2 separate regions of the Homo sapiens genome follow, and region 1 is linked to region 2. The links come from fine-mapping of genetic effects on gene expression. A gene starts in region 2. The other region holds a variant in brackets. All regions are shown on one strand. Distances are between the middles of the regions.

Region 1 (4,243 bases), 48 kb before region 2:
GCAGTGAGCCGAGATTGCGCCACTGCAGTCCAGCCTGGGGGACAGATGGACACTCTGTCTCAAAAAAAAAAAAAAAAAAAAAGAGAGAAAAAGAAAAGAGTCATTCAATCACGGTGACTTTGAGTGGGGGAACCTACTCTACTTCTGCACCCGGCTGGCTCTCCTGGTTTCCATGGTGACTCTGTGATTACTTGGCCTCTCTCCTCACAGCCCCCTCCCCTTTCCCACATTATTCTCCAAAAAAATGGTCCTGTTTCATGCCTCATGTTGAATACGGAGGGTTCTGGTAGTCTCCAGGATAGTATTATTTTTAAAAATCTGTGTTATCGAGGTGTAATTTATGTACAACAAAATTCGCCAATGTTAAATGTAAAATTTGCTGAGTCATGCCAGTGTAAACACTCAGGCAATCACCTCATAATTGTGATATAGAGCATTTCTATCACCCAGAAACTCCCTCTAAACCCTTTGCAGCCAATCACCTCCTCCAGTCTCAAGCATTGATCTGGTTTCTGTGTTTCTGCCACCATGGTTGTTTTTTGTTTTTGTTTTTGTTTTTGCTTTGAGACGGAGTCTTACTCTATCACCCAGGCTAGAGTGCAGTGGCACAATCTTGGCTCACTACAACCTCCACCTCCTGGGTTCAAGCCATTCCCCTGCCTCAGCCTCCCCAGTAGCTGGGATTACAGGCACACACCACCATGCCCAGCTAATTTTAGTATTTTTAGTAGAGACAGGGTTTTACCATGTTAGCCAGGCTGGTCTCGAACTCCTGACCTTGTGATCCGCCCACCTCGGCCTCCTAAAGTGCTGGGATCACAGGCGTGAGCCACCACGCCTGGCCCACCATGGTTTTGTCTATGTATAAATGGAATTAGACAGCAGGGAAACTTTTGAGTCTGGCTTTCTTCGCTTAGTGTAATGCTTTAGAAATTCATCAAGTTCTGTGAATGAGTTGCTCTTTCTTTTCGTTGCTGTGTAGTATTCCATTGTACAGATAGATCCCAATTTGTTTATCCATTCACCTTTTGATGCATATTTGGGTTGAGTCCTGAGGATGGTTTTCAGTCACAGAAAAGACTATTTGGAAGTTTATTTCTGGAGTAAACAATTAGTTTCTATTTATTAAAGTTACTAGTTCAAAACACTACTAATTCTTTCTTAACCTTAAGATTCAACCTATTGGCCAGGCGTGGTGGCTCACACCTGTAATCCCAGCAATTTAGGCAGCCGAGACAGGAAGATTACTTGAGGCTAGGAGCTGGAGACCAGTATGGGCAACATATCAAGACCCCATGTCTACAAAAAATTAAAATTTAATAATAATAAAATATTTAAAAAGTATAAATAAAATTCAGCTTACAAACCTTGTTTGAAAATCTAGATTTTAGCAAATGCTTCTAAGGGGCTTTTTACAACTTTATATCTTCAAACGTAAATGAATAGGTTTGATTTTCTTTTTCAGTATCTCAGTGTGGAAGAAAAGTTAAATATTAAATTTGAACTCAACTGAACATGGACACAAACAATGGTCACCAAGTCCCTGAACAGGTTGTGTGAGCCCCTTGAGGCGTTCATCCAGCACTGTTTCGGAGGAATCTCTATTTCAATCTATTCCTATACATTAGTTATTGAAAAACAACACACAATCGCAAAAACAAGTTGACCTTTTTGTGTTCCTTGAGACCGATAATGAAGGGCCCTCGTGACCGGACCTCATGCCAAACAACTCGTTACAAAAAGAGCTAGGGTCCCAGCTGCGCTGAAGCTTCATGAGACCTCTCCTCATCTGTGCATGGATGAGTGGCCGACTCTGGAGCCCAGGCTGTTGCTTCCCAGTCTGGTGGTGAATCCTCCATAGTCTGGTGAGTGTAAATATGTGTATATCTCTTTTCCCTTCTCCCCTTCCCATTGCAATTTGCTTATTATGTCATTTACTTATATCAATTTGCTTATTATATTAATTTCCTTATTATATCATTTGCTTATTATATCTGCATTGCCATTTACGTGGGATAAAGCTTGTTTACCCTTAAAGGTATTGTGTGTGTGCCTTTTCTTCTCCCCTCACGCAGCTCCCGCGGCTCCCACACAG[G/A]ACGCTCAGTTATCTGTATAAACAAAACCTTCCTGAAGATTTAAATCATTCTTATACATCAAGTAAATCCAAGTTATAAATAGGATGAATCTTAAGTTCTCTCAAAAATCTGTTTATCTAAAAAACTAGGGCTGGGCACTGTGACTCACACTTGTAATCCCAGGACTTTGGGAGGCTGAGGCTGATTGCCTGAGCCCAGGAGTTTGAGAACAGCCTGGGCAATATAGTGAGACCTCATCTCCACAAAAAATTTAAAAATTAGCCAGACATGGTTGCGCACGCCTGTGATCCTATCTACTCAGGAGGCTGAGGTGGGAGGATCACTTGAGCCGGGGAGGCAGAGGTTTCAGTGAGCTGAGATCCAGCTACTGCATTCCAGCCTGGGAAACAGAGTGAGACCCTGTCTCAAAAACAAAAACAGAAAACAAAACAAAAACCCTAAATGTATCTAGATTATTTCTTTGAACAGAAATATTAATGCTAAGGTTTTTTGTCTTTGTTTTTTATGAGAACGGGGTCTCACTCTGTAGCCCAGTCTGGAGTGCAGTAATGCAATCTCATCTCACTGCAACCTCTGCCTCCCGGGTTCAAGCGATTCTTCTGCCTCAGCCTCCTCAGTAACTGGGATTACAGGCACGCAGCACCACACCTGGGTAATTTTTGTATTTTTAGTAGAGACGTGGCTTCACCATGTTCGTCAGGCTGGTCTCGAACTCCTGACCACAAGAGTTCCGCCTGCCTCGGCCTCCCAAAGTGCTGCGATTACAGGCGTGAACCACCATGCCCGGCCAATGCTAAGATTTAAATTTTTGGTTTAGCATGCTAGTCTTAGTTCTAAATCTTCCTGAGGTTATGTTACATAAGTATCCTCATCAAGGACACTCTAAGGAAGAAAGTTCCATCACCGGTAACAGAGGTTAATTAATTTTTCATCTTCTAAGGTTACAGATGTGTTCCACAAAGAAAAAAAAGGCCGGGCACGGTGGCTCACGCCTGTAATCCCAGCACTTTGGGAGGCTGAGGTGGGCGGATCACGAGGTCAGGAGATCGCGACCATCCTGGCTAACACGGTGAAACACTGTCTCTACTAAAAATACAAAAAATTAGTCGGGCGTGGTGGTGGGCGCCTGTAGTCCCAGCTACTGGGGAGGCTGAGGCAGGAGAATGGCGTGAACCCGGGAGGCGGAGCTTGCAGTGAGCCCAGATGGCACCACTGCACTCCAGCCTGGGTGACAGTGCGAGACTCTGTCTCAAACAACAACAACAACAACAACAACAACAACAAAACAAAACAGACCAAAAAAAACCACAGTCCTCCCAGTTAATTGAGATCATGTGCCCACTAAGAAAGACACCTGTGGGGCTGCAGTGGCCAGCCATGCCCTCAGCACGGCACAAATTCTGTTTGTGCCACTGAATCTCTCCCCAAAGGGCTGCTGAGAGGCCTGTTTCTATAGCTGGGCTGGGAATGAGACAGAGCCCCTTGCAGGCTTTAGAGCTCTTCCTGTTGATTCAGGACTAAAAGCTTTTCATTCAACTTGTGATGTCAGAAAGCTGGGTGACTGACCGCCACTGCACAGTGACTTGATGGCCCCTTTGAAGCACAGGCCCACAAGGATTTGCAGGTAAATTGCAAATGGCCAATATCCAGTACAAACAGCCACCCACTGTGCCTGTCCCCCTGGCAGCCACTGCTTTTGGATTACTGCCCCTTCACCCTTGGTAATGCAGGCACACGGGCACGCAGTGCGGGACTGGTGGGCAACTCTGCCCACGGCCAGGCACAGGATCCACTAGGCAAAGCCAGCTGGGCTTCTGAGTCAGGTGGGGACTTGGAGAACTTTTATGTCTAGCTGGAGGATTGTATATGCACCAATCAGCACTCTGTGTCTAGCTGGGGGTTTGTGGATGCACCAGTCACCACTCTGTATCTAGCTAATCTGGTGGGGACTTGGAGAACTTTTATGTCTAGCTAGAGGATTGTAAATGCACCAATCAGCACTCTGTGTCTAGCTAAAAGATTGTAAATGCACCAATCAGCACTCTGAGTCTAGCTAAAGGTTTGTAACGCACCAATCAGTGCTCTGTGTCTAGCTAATCTAGTGGGGACTTGGAGAACTTTTGTGTCTAGCTGAAGGATTGTAAATG
Region 2 (4,243 bases):
CTCTACAGCTCTGCCACATTTTCTCCTTGAGAATGAAGGTATTTTGAAGATTTTGGAGGTGGGCTTGGGAACTTCTACCCTGGTCTTAAAAAGAGAGGAAAGGGGAGTGGAAGGTTTTTCTATGTTTCGTAGTGTGCATCATTTGCTTGATTTTCTTTGATAATCATATCAACTAAGTTAGCAGGGTAAGTAGGAACCTCATTTTAAAGATAAGGAATTTTAGTCCTTGAACAAGAGAATGCTGACTACATGGGGATGGTGTACTGCTTGTCCTTGGCACTTTGGGAGCAGGATGGAAACTGGTGCCATCTGAACATTTTGAGTTATGGCCGGATGCAGACGCCGGTCTTGCTAAACAGGTGTACCAGATGCCACAAAATCCTTTAGTTGATGAGAAGGGAAGCCACGTGGGCTGGTAAGGGCTTAGTGGCCCTGCCCTGGCTCTTAGTGGACTTTGCTCCCAACCTGGGAATGTGGAAAGCAATGTTATCAGTTGTAGTAGGGAGTTGGCCAGAGGCCAACTGTGGGTTTGCCCAGTTCTTACCCTTTCGTTTTTGCTATGACCCCCCCCTTGACTGGCCCTCATCAGTGTAAGGAGTGATCTTCTATCCTTGCTTATCTGCCTAGTAGTCAAGTTGGCATTTGTTAAGAGAGCAGAAGAGCCATACCTTGAATTGTCCCCATTTTCATTATGATGGTGTGGCATTTTTATTCACATACCTTACTGGCCCATCTCATTGGTAGAGAGTTATGGAGTGATGCACTTCTTTACTTCCCTATCCTCCACTTCAGGAGGCTCTCTGGGCCATTAACTAAGACATAAAACAATGACAGTCACACCAGAGAAGACAGTGAATAACCTTGTCTATTAGGAAGAATGCCATTTGTGAATGATGAACTTAATGTGGGAAAAGACTGCCTGAACCAGTAGACCTGTGGTTTTGTAGCTGTTTGGAGTATTTCTTGGAAATTGAGCCTCAGGAAGGCAAGTGAGACTAGAATCTAGGCTGCCTATCTCTGAGCTGGTCATCTCATTGAATTAATGGTGGCAGTCATTGGTTACCTGAACATTTTAGGACTCCTGTCCACACGTGGTATTCCAAAAGTGTTATCCTGACGTTGGTAAGAGCTTGTTAGAGTTTGTCCACCGAGGTCTTGAAGCATATGAGATATGAAAATAAATTGCTCAGTACTACTCTCAAGATGTTTTGTGGTTACCCGGAGTAGCTATCCACCAGGTATCAGGAAACATCTTTGAGTTCCTGGTTTTATTATTAGCCATATCATAGTGTTTCAGAACTTTAGCATCACCTGGGGACTCAAAGAAAACACCTAGATACCTTAGAGGTTGTGACTTAGTTGGTCTGGGGTAAATCCTGTGCCAGAACCCTGACCTAGACTCAGTGACTGCAGCAGAACCCAGGCTTTCTGGTTCTTCTGAATAGTTCCCTCCCCACCCAGGGACATCCTTTTTTTTCCTATTTGTAGGTTTGTTTTGTTTTTTTTGTTGGTTTGGTTGGTTGGTGTTTTTGTTTTGTTTTGTTTTGTTTTGTTTTGTTTTGTTTTGGAGATGGAGTCTCGCTCTGTCGCCCAGGCTGGAGTGCAGTGGCGCGATCTCGGCTCACTGCAATCTCTGTCTCCCGGGTTGAAGCGGTTCTCCTGCCTCAGCCTCCTGAGTAGCTAGGATTACAGGTGTGTGCCACCACGCCCAGCTGATTTTTGTATTTTTAGTAGAGACGGGGTTGCACCATGTTGGTCAGGATGGTCTTGAATTCCTGACCTCGTGATCCACCCACCTCGGCCTCCCAAAGTGCTGGGATTACAGGCATGAGCCACTGCGCCTGGCCCTTTGTTTTTTTGAGATGAGGTCTCACTACATTGCTCAAGCTGGTCTCAACCTCCTGAGCTCAAGCAGCCCTCCCACCTCAGCCTTCCAAAGTGCTGGGATTACAGGCACAAGCCATCACACCCAGCCAGGGACACCTTATTTCTTAAGTAGCTGGTCTCATTTTGTAGGTAATGCTGGAGGATGGAAGAAGCAAAGGGTTTGGCTTCGTCTGCTTCTCATCTCCTGAAGAAGCAACCAAAGCAGTCACTGAGATGAATGGACGCATTGTGGGCTCCAAGCCACTATATGTTGCCCTGGCCCAGAGGAAGGAAGAGAGAAAGGCTCACCTGACCAACCAGTATATGCAACGAGTGGCTGGAATGAGAGCACTTCCTGCCAATGCCATCTTAAATCAGTTCCAGCCTGCAGCGGGTGGCTACTTTGTGCCAGCAGTCCCACAGGTGGGTGTGCTGTTTGGTCACAGCTCTTGGGAACCTGCCGGCTGGCAGTATTCTGCAGTGGTTGGGGAGAGGGATTTTTCGTTATTAGAGTTCTAGAATGTCACAATAAGGACCCTTCAAGTAAAAATGAAGGACTTACCCATGGTCACAAACACACACCCACAGTGGCAGTGGTAGCATAAAACAGTCCCCATTAGCTGACCCCTCAGCTCTTGAATAGAAAGAACATTTAAATAATTAGCTTAGGTCCTGGTTAGTGAGATGAGATGAGATACTTCTCTAGGATGGGTTCAGTCCTTAAGGGGGTGTTTGGGTATTCTTCTGTCTTACAGGCTCAGGGAAGGCCTCCATATTATACACCTAACCAGTTAGCACAGATGAGGCCTAATCCACGCTGGCAGCAAGGTGGGAGACCTCAAGGTAGGTGGTGGGGAACAGTAATTGACAGCCCAGGATATACCTGTCCTGGTCTCCCCTGCCTTTCCTTCTTCCCCACTCTGAGGCACAGCCTAGGTTCTGGTCCACATCACTTCTCAATGATGTGCAATTTTTCTCTTCACCAGGCTTCCAAGGAATGCCAAGTGCTATACGCCAGTCTGGGCCTCGTCCAACTCTTCGCCATCTGGCTCCAACTGGTAATGCTCCGGCCTCTCGTGGCCTCCCTACTACCACTCAGAGAGTCGGTGAGCAAACTGGCCTTTAGAAGTGTGGCCTGGGGAGGAGGGAGTCAGGATGACTAGGCTCTGTCCTGGGTTGGTCAGTTTGTTGGGCTCGAATTTATCGAGTCCTGGTTCTGTAATCTTAGCTGTGTGCTTAGGTGGCCACTTCAGGAGCAGAGAAACAGTATGAGTTCTAGGTGTGTCAGTTGCTTTTAACATTCTTTGCTCATCGGTGACCTATGTGAAAAAGGTTAGTTGTAGAAGTTTGCTAGCTGGATGACCACAGAGGCAGCTTGTTCTTTTGGGTGGGGTGAGGAATACAAGGAAACAGTGTATACAGAATATGTCTTGTATTCCAAGATGTGGAAAGAGTTGTATGTTATCCTTTGGCTCATCCTCGAAAGTAGTAGTGGCCCCCTGTGCAATGTGTTGCGTAAACGTGCTTTGAAATTTCTCCTTCCGTGGGACGTGGCCAGTTGGACATCTGCCGCCAACACTGATGTGCATTTGCTGGTCTGTTGTAGGGTCTGAGTGCCCGGACCGCTTGGCTATGGACTTTGGTGGGGCTGGTGCCGCCCAGCAAGGGCTGACTGACAGCTGCCAGTCTGGAGGTGGTATTGGATGCACACAGAAGGGGGAAAGATGGGATTTGACGGGTCTTTGCCCAGACTGATGGGCTTTAATTGTATTTGTTCTTTCCCTAAGGCGTTCCCACAGCTGTGCAGAACTTAGCGCCACGCGCTGCTGTTGCTGCTGCTGCTCCCCGGGCTGTTGCCCCCTACAAATACGCCTCCAGTGTCCGCAGCCCTCATCCTGCCATACAGCCTCTGCAGGTGAGGTTCACCAGACAGAATGCTTAAAAGGATTTCCCCCATTTCCACTTGATGTAAAAGAAGCTGTGCTTTTGATTCCTTCAACAGGTATTAAATGCCTGCTCTGTGTTATGACGCTATGTTCTGATTCACTGTCCCTGCCCTTCAGGGGCTCACTAGTGGGAAAGAAGGGGCTTAAAAGTGCTCTGCCTGATGCCAGTTCACTCAGAAATGCCTCAGAGCGGGCAGCCAGTGCTTCCTCTTCTGTTTGTACGAAATAATGTGCTCATTCAGCTGTTTGAGCCTCCAGGTCACTTCCGCATCCAATGACCTATTGGATCCTTGGCTGCTCTGCAAGATGATTGGTACATTAATGCAGGAAATAACTTCAACTTACAGATCGGATGTTCAGCTTCAAAGATGTAAAGTGTGTGTAGGAGGTGAAGGGGTTGAACCTAGAGCTTAGATTTTCTAAGCTGTAAC

Which allele goes with the higher level. Positions count from the first base shown, and alleles are read on the strand shown. Sizes are in standard deviations (SD) of each study's normalised expression.
For the expression in visceral fat of the gene that starts at base 2,325 in region 2, allele G in region 1 goes with a higher level than allele A (small effect, 0.13 SD a copy in GTEx).

What was found. PIP is the estimated chance that this variant, and not a neighbour inherited with it, causes the effect. A credible set is the group of variants that fine-mapping cannot tell apart.
Region 1: its variant is the best candidate, but not a certain one, in a credible set for the expression of PABPC4-AS1 in visceral fat (GTEx, PIP 0.53).

Annotation. Positions count from the first base shown.
Region 1 is chr1:39,611,427-39,615,669 of GRCh38, reverse strand. No RefSeq gene overlaps it. Among named protein-coding and RNA genes, the nearest start is that of HEYL, 26 kb to the left of the region's middle. RefSeq lists enhancers at 2,012-2,181, 3,721-3,890. The variant G/A (reference allele first, on the strand shown) is at 2,096.
Region 2 is chr1:39,563,152-39,567,394 of GRCh38, reverse strand. PABPC4-AS1 (PABPC4 antisense RNA 1) reads right to left here and starts at 2,325. Exons shown (of 4, transcript NR_125979.1): 1 at 2,176-2,325. It overlaps PABPC4 (poly(A) binding protein cytoplasmic 4), which reads left to right. Exons shown (of 16, transcript NM_001135653.2): 8 at 2,017-2,289; 9 at 2,622-2,709; 10 at 2,853-2,972; 11 at 3,473-3,559; 12 at 3,654-3,781. It overlaps SNORA55 (small nucleolar RNA, H/ACA box 55), which reads left to right; the gene lies at 1-21.